Regions from separate parts of the Homo sapiens genome. Here region 2 is linked to region 1. Evidence: fine-mapped expression QTL. A gene starts in region 1. The other region holds a variant in brackets. All regions are shown on one strand. Distances are between the middles of the regions.

Evidence for each region.
Region 2: its variant is fine-mapped to the expression of SLC7A8 in whole blood (INTERVAL, PIP above 0.99).

Annotation. Positions count from the first base shown.
Region 1 is chr14:23,179,124-23,187,622 of GRCh38, reverse strand. It overlaps SLC7A8 (solute carrier family 7 member 8), which reads left to right and starts at 3,963. Exons shown (of 11, transcript NM_012244.4): 1 at 3,963-4,859. The coding sequence starts at 4,709. It also overlaps a transcript of RNF212B not described here.
Region 2 is chr14:23,146,182-23,154,680 of GRCh38, reverse strand. All of the region lies in intron 3 of SLC7A8 (solute carrier family 7 member 8), which reads left to right. Among named protein-coding and RNA genes, the nearest start is that of CEBPE, 31 kb to the right of the region's middle. The variant C/A (reference allele first, on the strand shown) is at 4,289.

The sequences.
Region 1 (8,499 bases):
GCTGTCTATTGGATCTAGAAAAAAAAATCAGGAATGGAGTGCATGAGCTTTGTGCTCTATTCCTTTGCATTAGCAGACACGTCTAACTTGTCTCTGAAAGGGAATATTAACCCGGGTGTGGTGGCGCACATCTGTAGTCCCAGCTACTCGGGAGGCTGAGGCGGGAGGATCACTTGAGCCCAGGAGTTTGAGGCTGCTGTGAGCTGTGATTGTGCCACTACACTCCAGCCTGGGTGACAGAGTGAGACCTTGTCTCTAAAAAAGGGGGGAGTAGGGGAATATTAGAACATGACTGCGTGGGGGTTGTGTGTGTTTGTGTTTTAACTATCACAAGCAGCATGTCCCAAGCCATAACCTTTTCTGTCCAGTAGGTGTCAGCTACGCACAGCCTTTCTCTTTCTAAATCCATATTTGTAAGAAAACGGCCTTTCATCCATAATTTTCCCTAGTTAAAGGGATCAATTTCTTCTGATCTGAAGCACGCAAAACAGCTGAAACAGTGGCTCCGATATTGGAAACAGAATTGTACTACGTACTTGGGATATGGCCACACTGAGGACTGTGCGAAGGGGGTGACAAATGTTGGGGGGGCCCAGGTGAAGTCCTGTGGGTCTCACTGAGCAGATAAGTGTTAGGATCAAGGTGAGTCTCTAAAAGGCACAGTTAAGACACCAAAGCAAAAACACAGAGTTTCCCTCAGGTGAAAGAAATTGAGGCTTTGACCAGTAGCTATAGCATCCTGAAAAAGTGCTCAGTGTAAACTATCAATCTCCCATTTGCCCTCAAATAGACTGTCTTGTTTTTTACCTCAGGTAAAATATTTCTTTAAGCCTCAGGTTTCTAATTTTTAAAATCTTTAAGATAACTGCCTCGTCTGCCCAAGATACTACATGAGGAGGAAAAAAATTGAGATATTGTTCAGAAAACCATTTGTGGGCTATAAAGCACTATTTAAACGTAGAGAATAGAATAAAAATATAAAGGCAAATGCAGAATAGAGTAATCCCAGCACTTTGGGAGGCCGAGGCGGGTGGATCACAAGGTTAGGAGTTCAAGACGAGCCTAACCAACAGGGTGAAACCCCGTCTCTACTAAAAACACAAAAATTAGCCAGGCATGGTGGCAGGTGCCTGTAATCCCAGCTACTTAGGAGGCTGAGGCAGGAGAATCACTTGAACCTAGGAGCCAGAGGTTGCAGTGAGCCGAGAGCCGAGATCGCACCACTGCAGTCCGGCCAGAGCAGCAGAGCGAGACTCCTTCTCAAAAAAAAAAAAAATGCTCAAAATTTAATAAACATTAGTTTGTAATTTTTTACAGATTTTTGTCAACATATTACACCAAGGCTTTTCTTTCTCTCTTGTGTTCAATGTTAGTCACCTGGAATTTTGACACACTTAAGAGTTTATGTCACAAAAAGATTCCAACCTACAGAGAGGCACTTAATATAAATAATGCTCCCTTTGAAAGTGGGGAGATTCCTTTCCTAGCTTTGTTTGTTTGTTTGTTTTGGTTTGGTTTTTTTAAAGACAGGGTCTCACTTTGCCACCCAGGCTGGAGTGCAGTGGTGCGATCTTGGCTCATTGCAGCCTCAACCTCCATGGCTCACACGATCCTCCCACCTCAGCCTCCTGAGTAGCTGGGATTACAGGCGTGAGCCACCACACCCAGCTAATTTTTGTATTTTTTGTAGAGATGGGGTTTCACCACATTGCCCAGTCTGGTCTTGAACTCCTGAGTTCAAGCACTCCACCTGCTTCGGCCTCCCAAAGTGCTGGAATTACAGGCATGAGCCACCGTGCCCAGCCCCTTTCCTAGATATTACATCGCACCAGTAATCAATGGTAATAAGCCACTTATAAATTCCAAGTGCTAAAGAAATAGAAATACTAATCTTCAGCAACTCTTCCTTTCCAACGTGTGCACCTAGTACCGCTGTATTCCAAGAACGTATTTGATCCCATAACCCCCTTAGCTTCTTAGTTCATAATTTGAGAGGGCTAAAGCTTACCATATCGTTATCAGTTTGCACTGGTTTTAGCAAGAGACCTCAAATTCATCACATTCATGTTTTATCCCACATTAAGTCTGCATCATATAAATTAGAACTACCAAATATTACTGAAAGAACTCACGTTTAAGAAGCAGAAACATTATTTGTTTTATATGGTGATGTTGAAATCGGAGCAGAAGTCTTCAAATCTGAATGTATACAAATGAATCTATCAAATTTTTCCTCAGTGCTTTCTAAGGTTGTCAGGAAAGGCTAGAGGCAAATTCGACATTTTTTCATTTCCCATGACTCATTCCCTCCCATGGAGTTTCGTGCTATATATTCCCTGCCTTGTCTGGTTTTTTTTGTTGTTGTTTGTTGTTTTTTTTTTGCTGAGTCTTTCAATTTGCTGTGTCTTGAACTAGCAAAAGGAGGAGAGGAAGTTCCTCCCAACCTTTGAAACCTCTTAATACTTGCTGAGTGATCAAGGGGGCAGATGACTGCTGATTGGACTTTACCCCATTTGAAAAAGCTTTTGCTATGATAGCTCAACAAACCTCATTTTAAGGAATTAAGTATTTATTTTCCTTAAAACCCAAAATCTTTTGGAACATTTTCCAGAAAGTGAGGCCAAATTTTTGTAGTTAGGGGTCAGTTTGGGGGAACTTAATTTTTTAGGCCCACTTTAAAATTAAATAATTTTGCATAATATATTTAATAAGGCTAAAAATAACTTTATTTTAGACTTATAGTGTTGTCCACTATATTGCTTCATGCTGTTTTTTCGAAATAATTTACAATTATAAATAGACATTGTTGCTCTCACCTTAAGGCAGCAGTTTCTGAGTGAAATTCTTCAAGAAAGTGGAGGCATCATTTCGATATGGTAATAAGCTAGTTATTCTAACATCAACAAGTATGTTTCATGATCAGCGATATACTGATAATTCCCCATGTGTGCTTTTCAAATAGTTTATAAATGCAAAAATATTAGAAGTTGCAGGATCAGGGTTTGAGTCATTTTTTTTCATGTTTCAGCCAGTCCTAAATAAGAGCTGTGAACAACAAGGCTACCTGGTGATTTTGTTTTTTATCTTTTTGTATGTGCATGTGGTTTTTCTGGCTTTTTGTTTTGTTTTGTTTTTGAGACAGGGTCTTGCTCTACCTCCCAGGCTGGAGTGCAGTGGCGTCATCATAGCTCACTGCAGCCTTGACCTCCTGAGCTCAAGCAATCCTCCAGCCTCAGCCTCCTGAGTAGCTAAGACTACAGGCCTGCACCACTGCACCCGGCTAATTTTAAAATTTTTAGTAGACGGGGTCTCGCTCTGTTGCACAGGCTGGTCTCAGACTCCTGGGCTCACGTGATCCTCCCCTGTCAGCCTCCCAAAGCGCTGGGATTACAGGCGTGAGCCACCGCGCCTGGCGATTTTGTTTCCTCTGTACTCTTCGTAGCTCACAATTACGCTAAAAGAACCTTTTTCCCATTGTTAATTCCTTCCATTTCCCTCCCCCACCCGTCGATTCCCCCTATTTTTAGGAAACTCGAAGATGATGTCCTTTCAACGTTCTCTCCTGTATTCTCAAATACAGGATCCAGTCCTAAATATTTTTTAATACATTGGCTAGTTTATTTCTGATGGCATTAAAAGTATCGGCACAACTGTTCCCTGATTTATAAAGCTCACAGATGCTGTATGACCTGTAACATTATACTAGCTAATGAGCTCTCCCGGAACAGTTGACGTGGAAGGAGTTTACTTCCACTTGGTTGCAAGGAGAAAGATGGAGAAAGCGAGAGACGATTGCAAAAAGAAATAACTTAGTCCATTTTCTCAGTGCTGTTTGGGGGCTTTGTGCTAATACTTAAATTGCAGAGGAGGGAGGAGACGGGACTGAGGATGGAGGGGAGCAGAGGAGGCAGGGGCGGAGCCTCGGCGGGCGAATAAAACCCCTCGCTAAAGAGAAGCACGTTAGTGTGTGGAGAAGCCACTCTCCCGAAACCAGAGGGATGGGGCCGGCTGTGCAGTAGAACGGGGATCGAAAAGAGGAAAACAAGGGCACGAAGACCAGCGAGAAAGAAGAGGACACCTGGGAAAGGCGGAAGCAGAAGACGGGGAAGGGAAAAGAAACCCAAAGCAGGTGGAAACCAGATCTAGAGCAACACCGTCAGGTTCACAGTTTGTTTTTCTAGAAGAGAAGAAAGTACCTGAGGATTGCTCTTTTTTCCTACCGTTAATGAAAACTACTTTTGTCTTCATCATAAAAGAAAAAACTAAGGGGAGGTAAAGGCAGTCTCCTGTTTTATTAGGGGGAGAGGTGAAGGGAAATCCAGGCTCACTTTCTGAATAAGCCACTGCCTGGTGCACAGAGCAGAACCATCCTGGTTTCTGAAGACACATCCCTTTCAGCAGAATTCCAGCCGGAGTCGCTGGCACAGTTCTATTTTTATATTTAAATGTATGTCTCCCCTGGCCTTTTTTTTTTTTTTTTTTTTTAGCAACACTTTTCTTGTTTGTAAACGCGAGTGACCAGAAAGTGTGAATGCGGAGTAGGAATATTTTTCGTGTTCTCTTTTATCTGCTTGCCTTTTTTAGAGAGTAGCAGTGGTTCCTATTTCGGAAAAGGACGTTCTAATTCAAAGCTCTCTCCCAATATATTTACACGAATACGCATTTAGAAAGGGAGGCAGCTTTTGAGGTTGCAATCCTACTGAGAAGGATGGAAGAAGGAGCCAGGCACCGAAACAACACCGAAAAGAAACACCCAGGTGGGGGCGAGTCGGACGCCAGCCCCGAGGCTGGTTCCGGAGGGGGCGGAGTAGCCCTGAAGAAAGAGATCGGATTGGTCAGTGCCTGTGGTATCATCGTAGGTGAGTTCCATTCCTTCCCGCGGACCCCTCCTCTCCCCTCTGGTGGTCCTCCTGTGAGATCTTAACCCTTCGAAAGCATTATTGTTCTTCCTATTCCTTAGAAAAGGATTGTCAGTCACCTGAGCTGTAACTCACCTCCACTGGTCAAGTTTGAGAGGCATAGGAAATACATCATACATCTCTTCCTCCAAACCAGGCAAAGATTCTGCCCAGTGTTCATAGAATGGAGCAAATCGTGGTCAGAAACCCGGCTGATGATTAGCATTGCCTGGGAACTCCTTAAAAATACAGGTCCTGGTCTCGACACTTGGAGGTTCTAGTTCAATAGGTTTAAGGAGGGACTGAGGGACCTGAACAAGTTTGTATGCAGCTATTATTCCCAGGCTGGGGATGGGCTTTTAAGGTATATTTGGTAGCTATTTTGCAGTTTTATGTTAAATGAAACTATGGGATAGGTATTAAAAATAGCAAGAGCAATGCCCTGCCTTTTTATTTTAGCGTTTTCCACCTTATGCAGCACTTTTACTGTGTGAAGTAGCTGTGACAGGGCTGTTATTCCCATTTCACAGATGGGGAAGTTATGGAAGAAAAGAGGGGACAGATTGTGCCTCTCGGTAAGTGGAGAGTTTGCAGTTTCTCCAGTTGCCTGGTGGGGTCCACCTGTTTCTTAACAGCCACGGAGGACCCGGTGAAGCTCTCAGAGGGAATCAGGAGTAACTAGAATGTGTAGAATATGGAGTTGAGGAGGAACTGATGGGTAAAATATGTGTCCTAGCTGGGAGGTGCTGAAGGTGGGGAACCTGGGTGGCCCCAAGAGTGCCAGTGCAGGCCACTCAAACCCCCTGAATGTACTTTGCAGGGCAGGAGTCCCAAATACAGCTTCGTCTCTAGACAGCACATCCTCTTTCCAGAGAAGCCTTGGAGATGGATGGCAGGCAATAGCTCACTATTCCTGCCCTCACTTCAGAGTGAGAGATTGTTCTGCTATCTTTGGTAGGGGGCTTTACTTTCTTCCCAGAAAAAGGAGTGCAGGACGGTCAGGCATAGATATGCTTCTTTGTCATCTCTCCAGAGTTCCTTTATGAGAGCTCGTTGTGTCCTGGTGCCCCTGAACCAGTTTCTCTGGCTGACGCCATGTTCTATGCAATAGCTCAGAGATATTTTGGCATCTGAGCAATAGTGACACTGGAGAGCACTCTTGAAATCAAATAAAATCAGTGCAGTATTCAGATAATCCTCTTCACCTCTACACCCAGAACTTCAGTGACCAAGCTCTCTTCAGTCTCTAAAATGAAATCCCATCCCCCCCCCACCCCCACCAACTCCTCCTACACCCTGGAATCCTATTTTATGTGATTCCCTGACTCTGGGAAGTTTTCCAGGCCATCTACAGTTATAAGAAAGATAATGTTATAAGAAAAATTGTAGTCATGATCTGAATCTCTCTTTACTTTTTCTCATGACATTTTTTTTGCCTCTCCTTTACTTTATCTCAATTGTTCAAAAGAAATGAGAACAGCCAAGTATTCAGTATGTATAGCACATGCCAGTTTAAGGTCTATAAATAGCCCGTTCACCAATTTGACTGACAGAATTAAGCATTTTCCCCCTCTAGGAAGGTTCTGACTTATACACAGATGCGCACGCCCACAGGCACACAAGCACAATTAAACATCCTTCCTGCCTCAGCCTGGCTCGCCCTTCCCAATATAGGTTCAGGTATTCTTTTTTTTTGTTCAGACGGAGTCTCGCTCTGTGGCCCAGGCTGGAGTGCAGTGGCGCGATCTCGGCTCACTGCAAGCTCCGCCTCCCGGGTTCACGCCATTCTCCTGCCTCAGCCTCCCGAGTAGCTGGGACTACAGGCGCCCACCACCACGCCCTGCTAATTTTTTTTGTATTTTTAGTAGAGACGGGGTTTCACCGTGTTAACCAGGATGGTCTCGATCTCCAGGTTCAGGTATTCAAGGGTAGAGGGTATTTTCCTATATACTGATGTTTTTGTCTCTTCCTTTAACATCTTTTTCTAAGATTATGAAGAAATGGGAGTGTTCAGGTATAATAAGTACAATTTCTGTGGGTATATGTTACTACTGATTTGTCCACAACCTTATGGATGGTACTTCAATGGGAGAATAATCTCAAAGCTCCCCATGGTGGCATTACAGTAACTAGAATGGCAATTCTGGTGTTCTGTGATGAAAAGAGATTCCAAATATGTGATTTCAGAGAAATTGGGATATTTTTGCAAAACATGAGAATCCTTGTAGAGTTAATAGGCACTATTCTACCCCAACTTAAGCTAGAAACAAATTTCCCCTTTAAGATGATAACAGGGGACAAAATCCATTCTGCTTCCCCTCCCGAGTTGCTGTTGAGTCACAGATGTGCTGAGGAACTGCCCTTTCCTCTTCTGGAGAAGTTTCTCAGTGGATGATCGTGATTCAAGTGTTTTCAAGACCAAATGCAAAAATAGAAATGGCATTTTCTGTGTAGATTTCAGGGATCTGGTGTCCAATGTCAACACTGCAGAAAAAAAGAGAACTAAAAGGCAAAAAAAGGGCCGGGTGCGGTGGCTCACACCTGTAATCCCAGCACTTTGGGAGGCCAAGGCGGGCGGATCACGAGGTCAGGAGATCAAGACCATCCTGGCTAACACGGTGAAACCTCGTCTCTACTAAAAAATACAAAAAATTAGCCGGGCGTCGTGGCGCATGCCTGTAGTCCCAGCTACTCGTGAGGCTGAGGCAGGAGAATTGCTTGAACCCAGAAGGCAGAGGTTGCAGTGAGCCAAGGTTGCGCCACTGCACTCCAGTCTGGGTGACAGAGTGAGACTCCATCTCAAAAAAAAAAAAAAAAAGTCAAAAAGAGAAAGGAAGTTTTCTAAGTGAATCAGGAGACATGTTATGGAAAAGTAGAATTTGTCCCATCTTTCTTTCTTTCTTTCTTTTTTTTCTGAGACAGTGTCTCGCTGTGTTGCCTAGGCTGGAGTGCTGTGGCGTGCTCACTGCATCGCTGCAGCCTCAAACTCCTGGGCTCAAGCGATCCTTCCACCTCAGCTTCCTCAGTAGCTGTGACCACAGGCATACACCACGACACCTAGCTATTTTAAATTTTTTCTTGTAGAAACAGGGTCTCACTGTATCGCCCAGGCTGGTCTCCAACTCCTGGGCTCAAGAAATCCTCCCACCTCGGCCTATCAGTGCTGGGATTACAGGCATGAGCCACCGTGCCCGGCCCCCAGATCTTTTTTTTTTTTTCAGGGACTGTGGCAAAGTTACATTTGCCCTAAATCTATCTCTCTCATACCTTACTGACTAAGAGGGATAATTTAAACTACATGTTTTGTAAAATTTCATTCACAATCAACATGGATGATTGAAAGCAAGGATAACAGAATGGTAGGTGTTATGGAAATATACAATGAATTAATAGAAGACTTATGCCAGAGAGTTCCTTATATCCTGATTGGGAGGATGAGATGCATATGTACTAAACAGAGAACATTCAAAATTAATGACATGGTTTAGTTGTGAAAGAGCTAAAGTAGGGCAAAGTTATGTGAATGGTGGGAAGCCAGGAGAGAGAGGTTCTTACTAAGAACTAGATTAAGAAGCATCTTGAAGGCTTTGAGGAGAAGATG
Region 2 (8,499 bases), 33 kb after region 1:
TATCAGAGCCTTGGGTTGTGTGCGTTAGAGGTCAAACAGGCCTCCGTGTTTTCTTTGCCTATCAGCGCCTTTTGGCAGCCGGCACTGCTTACCTCCTAGATCTGGAAACGCCTGCGGTTGGACAGGCCAAGCCGAAGCGGCTTTTCCACAATTAGAAACACGTGCTCAGTTCCTTCCACAAGCGGGGGAGGCGGCCAAGGAACTCGGTGCAGCCAATCACAGAGCCGAGCGTAGCCACACCCACGCCCCCACAGGCCCGGCTTCCCTGCCCAGCGGCTCCAACCTCCAGCCTGGGCACCCAGACCCAGAGGGCTGCTGGGAGGGACATGCCTCACCCCTTTTGCTCCAGCTGGAGGGGAGGGAGTCTGTGGGAGCTGGCCAGAGCGTGGCAGAAGGCAGAGAAGTGAACGCCCCAGCAAAAGGTGAGGCTGAGAAGCCAACCCTTCTGGCAGGCCATGACCCAGGTGAAATTTATGGCGTTTCAGAGGGCTGGGGAGCTCCATCCAGAAAGGTGCCTGTTTTGCAGGTTTGGAGAGGAACAGGGCGTTCTGATTTCTACAAAGTGGCGTCACTGCTTCCTTTTTCAGCAACCGTCTGCTTAGTACATTCCATCTTGCTGTTTTCAGTCCTGGCCTCTCTCTGTTCTGCTCCTCTCAAGCCCTTTTTCTCTCCCACTCATCTGCATTGTCCTCCCCTTGCTCTCTCCCGCCCTGTGGTTTCTTGTGCTCTTTCCCTCTCTTCTTCACCATCTGTCTTTATGGACTTTGGCAAGTCTGGACATTTTTCCCCCTTTCTACTGCCTGTTTTCACTTATCTGAACAGACAAGGAGGAGTGGCCTGGTTCTGGAAATGTTAAAGGAAAACCAAGCCTTTCCAAGCCAGTCCAGTCCACTCCTGAGAAAGGTGCAAGCCAGCGAGACCGAGAAATCCAAATGGAGTTCCGGGAGTTTGGAGGGAACATGTGACTGTGACATTGATTAAGGGGGCTGGTGGGAGGGGACCCAAGGTGGAGATCCCTGTGGGAAATGACTTTCTAAAGCCCTGGGAGCAATGGATGCACCTTTCTTGGTTTCTGAGGCATAACTGTGAAAGTCTTCCCCTTTTGCCATATTGGCATCTTCCTTCCTGCTGCACAGAAAGCAGTCCAGGCTGGGGCTAACCAGTGTCTTGGTGACAGACCCAGAGTCCCAAGTGGCACTGGCAGTAGTGACCATGGGTACCACTGACCCAAGCAGGAGGAGAGATGATGTGGGAGCGGCCAAGGGAAAGCAGAGTGATCTGTGTATAATGAAGGAAGGCGGGGCAGAGGCAGAACAAGCAACTGGGAATTGGGCTGTCCCAGTCTGGTCTTTGCTGCGAATTAGCTGGGGTCTAAATTCACTCACATATAAAATGAGGTTCTGGGGCCGCCATGGTGGCTCACAACTGTAATCCTAGCACTTTGGGAAGCCGAGTCAGGCAGATCGCTCAAGCCCAGGACTGGGAAGCTGCAGTGAGCTATGATCATGCCACTGCACTTCAGCCTGGGCGACAGAATGAGACTCCCATCTGTAAAAGAAAAATAAAATGAGGTTCTGGGTCTCTAAGGTCATTCCTGCCTTCTGATCACCCATGAGGCTGGACACAAGCCTTGGGTGGTAGGGCGCAGGCTTCAAATATTTACCTCTAGGGCCAAGAGTTGACTACAAGGAGAGTCCCAACTGGTTCATTCTTCTTAGCACTGTCCTTATAACAACCAATCCAGCCCCGTATCCAGGTGGCCCTATCCCAACCTTTACCCTGTCAGACCAGAATAGTGTGGCTCATCGAGTGGCAGCTGGCTTAGTAGAAGAAATGAGATTGGTTCAGGGATCCATGTGGGAATGTTCATTGGCTCCCTGAGGGAGGCACAAAATGACCCCCTGCTGGCCCAGCTCAATGAGAAGCCAGAGTCCTGTATCCAAAGCAAGGGAGCACCTGAAAACATCACCGGGTGTGGCGGCTCATGCCTGTAATCGCAGCACTTTGGGAGGCCAAGGCAGGTGGCTCACTTGAGCCCAGGAGTTCTAGAGACCAGCCTGGGCAACCTGGCATAACCCGTCTCTACAAAAAATACAAAAATTAGCTGGGCCTGGTGGCACACACCTCAGCTACTCAGGAGGCTGAGGTGGGAGGATCACCTGAGTCTGGGGAGGTTGAGACTGCAGTGAGCCATCATCATGCCACTGCACTCCAGCCTGGATGACAGAGTAAGACCCTGTCTCAAAAAAAAGAAAACATTGGTGGCTCATGCCTGTAATCCCAGCACTTTGAGAGGCCAAAGTGGGCAGATTGCTAGAGCTCAGGAGTTCAAGACCAGCCTGGGCAACATGGCGAAACCCCATCTCTACCAAAAATACAAAAAATTAGCTGGGCGTGGTGGCACATGCCTGTGGTCCCAGCTACTCAGGAGGCTGAGGTGGGAGGACTGCTTGAGCCCAGGAGGCAGAGATTGTAGTTTGCCAACATCAGGCCACTGCATTCCAGCCTGGGTGACAGAATGAGACTGCTCTCAAAAAAAAGAAAACAGTTATCAAGTAGTCTCTCTCTGGGAATAACGTGTACTCTTAGTGAGCTTTTTTTTTCTTTGCTTTTGTTTTGTTTTGTTTTTGTTTTGTTTTGTTTGAGGTGGAATCTCTGTCACCCAGGCTGGAGTGCAGTGGCACGATCTTGGCTCACTGCAACCTCTGCCTCCCAGGTTCAAGTGATTCTCAGCCTCCCGAATAGCTGGCATTACAGGCATGCTAATTTTTGTGTTTTTAATAGAGACAGGGTTTTGCTATATTGGCCAGGCTGGTCTTAAACTCCTGAACTCAAGTGATCTATCCGCCTCAGCTTCCCAAAGTGCTGGGATTACAGGTATGACCCACTGTGCCCAGCAAGCTTTTTGCTTTTTTTTTTTTTTTTTTTTTTAAGAGACAGGGTTACCCAGGCCAGCATGCAATGGCACAATCACAGCTTACTGCAGCCTTGAATTCCTGGGCTCAAGTGATCCTCCCACCCCAGCCTCCCTTGTAGCTGGGACTACAGGTATGTGTCACCACATCTGGCTAATTTTCTGTTATTTTTTAAGAGACAGGATCTTGCTGTGTTGCCCAGGCTGGCCTCGAACTTCTGGCCTCAATTGATCCTCCCACCTCAGTCTCTACTGTCACTGGGATTACAGGTGTCAGTGACTGTGCCTGGCTGTACTTTGTGAGCTTTCCTAGAGGAAGGAGAGACAGCCACAATATGTACCCTCTCCCCACAACTCTGTCTGGCATCCGGGGCACTTGCTGGCCTTGCTTCATGGGCCATCCTATGACATATTAAACCTGATATTTACTCCCTAGAGCAGCACGGTGGCTTCTATGTGCACCCTCCTTGAATTTTCTGTGTAGATGTATCTATCTGTCGTTTCCATTCAGTAAGCTTTAGCGCCTACTGTGTGCCAGACAGGACCTCAAGGCCACACCAGCCACCAGGGGATTGTTTATGGCTGCGTGTGCACCGCTGGCTGTGGACAGTCTCCGTGGGGCCTGAGGAGTGGGGCAGCACGGGCAGCAACCGCACAGCTCTTCAGCTTTCTGCAGGGTGTTCCTCCCTAGCAGACAGAGGCACGTGACTTATAAGACCTGGTGGTATTTTCTTCACTAGTGGAAACTGAGGCACGGGAATATGTTTGACCATCTGGGCTTCTGGTCCAGTGCGTTAGCCTGTGCTCCCCAGCCCCACAGCCTGTACCTGTGACCCACTCCCAACTTCCAGACAGCTGGGTTGAAGGACCCCAGAGCAGGTCATTTGTGAAGGAGCATCCTCCAGAGAAAAAGATGAAACAGATTAGAAATTGAGAAGGGTCAGGGGCACGATGTACAATGTGGTCTGATGCATGATATGGTCTCTAAAATCCTTCAAACCATTCCCATTCCCCGCCACTCTGCTTTGCCTGTGAGTGTCAGCATGATCCTGAGCAAATCACATGCTCTTTTTGACTTTCTTAGTCTGCAGTTTCTTAAGATGAACAATAAAAATAATCATTTAACATTTTATGCAACAATACACAGGATACAGAGTATCGTCACATGATTCAAATGGACCATAGGTTTTACATGGAGAAAAGGGAGGCTCAGAGAGGTTAACTGAGAGTACGTGACTAAGCTGGGAAGGGCACCATGGCCGCTGAGTTCCTCAAGTTCAAAAGTTCTGTGATTCTCAGATTCAGACCTGCCAGGTCCCTCTGAGAGAGCCGACTCTGCCTCCTTCCCTTCATGCTGCTGGTGATCCTCCTCCC[C/A]ATTCTTACCACTTCACACCTTACACAAGCTCCTCTGAGCTCCGTTCACTTGTTCCACGCCCGAAAAAGACTCCAGAAACCCACATCATCCTTCACTTACCAGGTGCTACTAGGTAGAGTTGAGGGGAAGAGTGATAAGATCACAGCCTCAGCTCTGGACGATTGCAGGGACTTAAAACCAGCTCCACGACTCCCCAACCCATCCTTAAAACCTTCTAAATGAAGATTTATTTGTTTATGCTAATGATTCATTGGTGTTCTATTTCAAAAGGCACTAAAGAAATTAATTTTAAATTGTCTCTTTTACCTATAATCTATAATACTGTCATGCATTGCTTAATGATGGGGATACATTCTGAGAAATGTATCCTTAGATGATTTAGTCATTATGCAAACATCATAGAGTGTACTGACATGAAACTAGGTGGCATAGTCTACTACACACCTAGGCTACATGGTGTAACCTGTTGCTGCTAGTCTACAAACCTATACAGCATGTTACTGTACTGAGCACTGTAGGCAGTTGTATTTGTGCATTAAACATATCTAAACAGAGAAAAGATACAGTAAAAATATGGTCTTATAATCTTATGGGACCACCAAGGTATAAATAGTCTGTTGTTGCCCAAAATGTCATTATGTAGCACATGACTGTATATTGATTTAGGGTTAAAAATGGGTTGACTGAGCCCGGAAGGATACAGGACAAGCTCTTCCAAGGTGTTTTTGGTGTTGTCTACCACAGGACAGTACACGGTGGGGCCACTCTGTCCCCTCTGATGTGAAGAGTGTACTCAGACTCAGGACTCTTGGGATAATAATCTCGTAGCTTTCTATCTTGACTTCTTTTATGGCCTTTGATTGTGGCTTCTGGCCAGTGAAATAAGGAGACCAACAAAATCATGGGGGCAGAAAATAAAGGATTCATGTCTGTGAACATCCTGGCACTCCACTCGCCTTGCAAGAAGTTAGTGATTCTTGGGCCAGTGTTTGCGTATCTGGGTTGTGTGGGTGGGCCTGAAGTTGTAAGGAATACAGGGGAGACTGGGGGAGAACCTGGATTAGATGAAGGAGGGATATTGTATCTTTTGCCCTGGATTTCTCTAAAAGGAAAGAGGAAAAACACTGCTAGAGTTACAAGGCAAGGCTGTTTGCTACTGTATTGAATTACCAAATGGAGGAAGAGGAAATAGGAACACTCTAGCTGTGGGATCCCAACTAGGGTTGGGAAGCTGGAAGAAGTGCGAAGCGGCTATGTGGTGTGGAACTTTGCTAACCAGGTGAACACACTAGTGACCTCACCTTCACTACCCTCTTCTAGAGAGCGCCATCCCTTCCCTCCATCTGGTGTCCCGCAAGGCCTGTGGACAGACACTCTTTTGGGCTCCTGGTGTGTGTTGCCTGGCTGCTGTTTAAAAGCTTTTCTCTTTAAGGGTATGTCCCTGCTGTCTGGTCTTTCTGTATAATGTCTGTCTGGTATCCATTTCCTATTGCTACTGTTACAAGTAACCACAAACTTAGTGGTTTAAAACTATGCAAATGTACTATCTTAGTCCTGAAAGTCAGAAGTCCTAAACTCTAGCGTCAGCAGGCCTGAATTTCTTCAGGAGGCTCTGGGGAGAATTCCTTGCCTTTTCTAGCTTCTAGGGACCTCCCACATTCTTTGGCTCATGGCCCCATCTTTCATCTTCAAAGCCAGCAGTGTAGCATCTTCAAATCTCTCTTTCTCTCTGTCTGATGTTTCCATGATCACATGTCTTTTTATAACTCTGACCTTCTTGCCTCCCTCTTGAAAGGACTCCTGTGACAACACTGGTCCCTCTGGATAATCCAGGATAATCTCCCCATCTCAAGATCCTTAACTTGGCTGGGCGCGGTGGCTCAGGCCTGTAATCCCAGCACTTTGGGAGGCCGAGGTGGGTGGATCACCTGAGTTCAGGAATTCGAGACCAGCCTGGCCAACATGGTGAAACCCGTCTCTACTAAAAATACAAAAATTAGCCAGGCGTGGTGGCGGACACCTGTAATCCCAGCTACTTGGGAGGCTGAGGCAGGAGAATCGTTTTAACATGGGAGGCAGAGGTTGCAGAGAGCTGAGACTGCGCCATTGCACTCCAGCCTGGGCAACAAGAGCGAAACTCTGTCTCCAAAAAAAAAATCCTTAACTTAATCACATTTGCAAAGTTCCTTTTGTCATTTAAAAAACATAGTCACAAATCTCAGGGATTAGAACGTTGATATCTTGGATGGCCATAATTCTGCCTTCAACTGCCCCCCATCCCAAAGAGATATGCTGTCATTGCCAAGGGGAGGAAGTGAAGGAGAGACTTCTGTAATTCCTGGAGATCAAAGTCTGGGATCAGAGCTGGGATGGGGCTGAGGGCACCTTCTCTGTAGGGAACCCAGCCCTCCACAGTGAGCAAGCCAGTTGCAGGTCTGCAGCGAGGACTCTGAATCCCTCTGCCAGTCCTGCAGAAAGCATTGAGCCCATCTCTCCTGCTTGGCAGCTGGGAGGCCCTGGACTCTGGGCAGTGTTCCAGGTTGCTAGAATCTGAGTTTTCCTCCTCCTGCCTGACTCATTATTTGTATCTCTTCTGTCACCTTGATGTTGAGTTCTTCAAACTGGGTGGATTAAGTAACCAGCCCCTGACTTCAGCATCTTCTTGAACTCTTGTCTTCTTAATAGTCTTTCATCTTATTTTTTACCCAGGAAGCAAGAAAGAAAGAGGGGAGGAAATGCCCAAAAAATACATACAAGCCTGGAATTCCATGAGGGCCTCTAAAGAAGCAGTAACCACTCCCGCAACTAGGTTACAACGGACAAGAACCAGTCTTATGACTTTTTATTTTGTCCAGTTGGACCAGGATTATAAATTTCTCCATGTTGCCAGGGTCTCCTCCTCCTATAGAAGGCATCTCTGATTCCCCTGGGCTGAGTTAGTGGTTCCTCATAGATGCCCACTAGCTTCCGTGAATAGCTTTGCCATCACCTCGTTGTTTTGTGGGCATCTCTTACTTCACCCGTCGTCCCTGTTATACTGCCAACTTCCTAAAGGCAGGGACTTGTGTCTTATCAATAACCTCCCCACCAGCTAGAATGCCTAGTACATGTAGGCCCTGCATGAATGACGGATGAGTAGATGGGTGGATGGATAGACAGATGGATGGATGGATAGATGATGGATGGTTGGATGGGTGGGTGGATGGATGGATGATAGATGGATAGATGGGTGGGTGGATGGATGCATGGATGATGGCTAGATGGGTGGATGGGTGAATGGATCTATGATGGATGGATGGATGGATGGATGGATAAAAAGCCCCTCACATTTCAAAGCTGCTATGGCCAATGATCCTCATCTACATGTGGCTTCCCTGAGGTCACTGTGTCTCAGGAATGCGGAATTCAGGGTCTAGCCGAGAAGAGAGGGTTCTAGAATATCATCGTCCGCAACAGACAAGTGCCAAGCAGTAGCTAGCCAGCAGCAGGGCTCCTGACCGGGGCAGGAGCTTGGCGAGCACCCACTGACCTTTCCTCTCTGGGTGGAGGCTCAGGTTTCAGCCTGCTGTGAGGGAAGCTGTCTTGTGGTACCAGGAGACTGATACCCTCTTTCCCCTCAGTCACATGGTATGATCACCCAACTGCAGGGTGAAGGGCCAGATCTGGGGCCTGCAGCCATTGTTCCAAGGAGATTAGGTGTCACAGGCAGCCTGCCTATCCCCACCTCATTCTCAGAATTTCTTCTTGTTTCTGAAAGATTACTGTGAAGGTGAAAGGTTAAATATTAGTCAAGGGCTGAGTTCTTGGGAAGTGATGGAGATAAGGTTAGGCAAGACAGAAGATAGCCACAGATAGGTTATTTTACAAAGCATCCCTATCTCTGTTACCCCAGGAAGACCACAGAGCTGATAGTTTGAAGGTGTCTTTCTGTGACTCAGTAAGGTCCATCTTGTAAAGAGATGATTTCATGTTTTCTTTCCCAGCACACAGGGAGGTGGTCTGCTTGGGGGAGGAGGAATTTCTTTGAGTTGTCCTGCTCTGCCCTTATTTTCCTCAAGCACTTTCTGTCATTTCCTCGCCCTCCCCTCTCCTCCCCTTGGAGAAGGATTTTCTTCCCTGAGATCAAGATCCAGTTCCTTGTTGTGTAATCCTTACCTATCCCTGAGGCTTATGGGGTTTGTTTCCTAATCTTCCTTCCTTCCTTTTATCA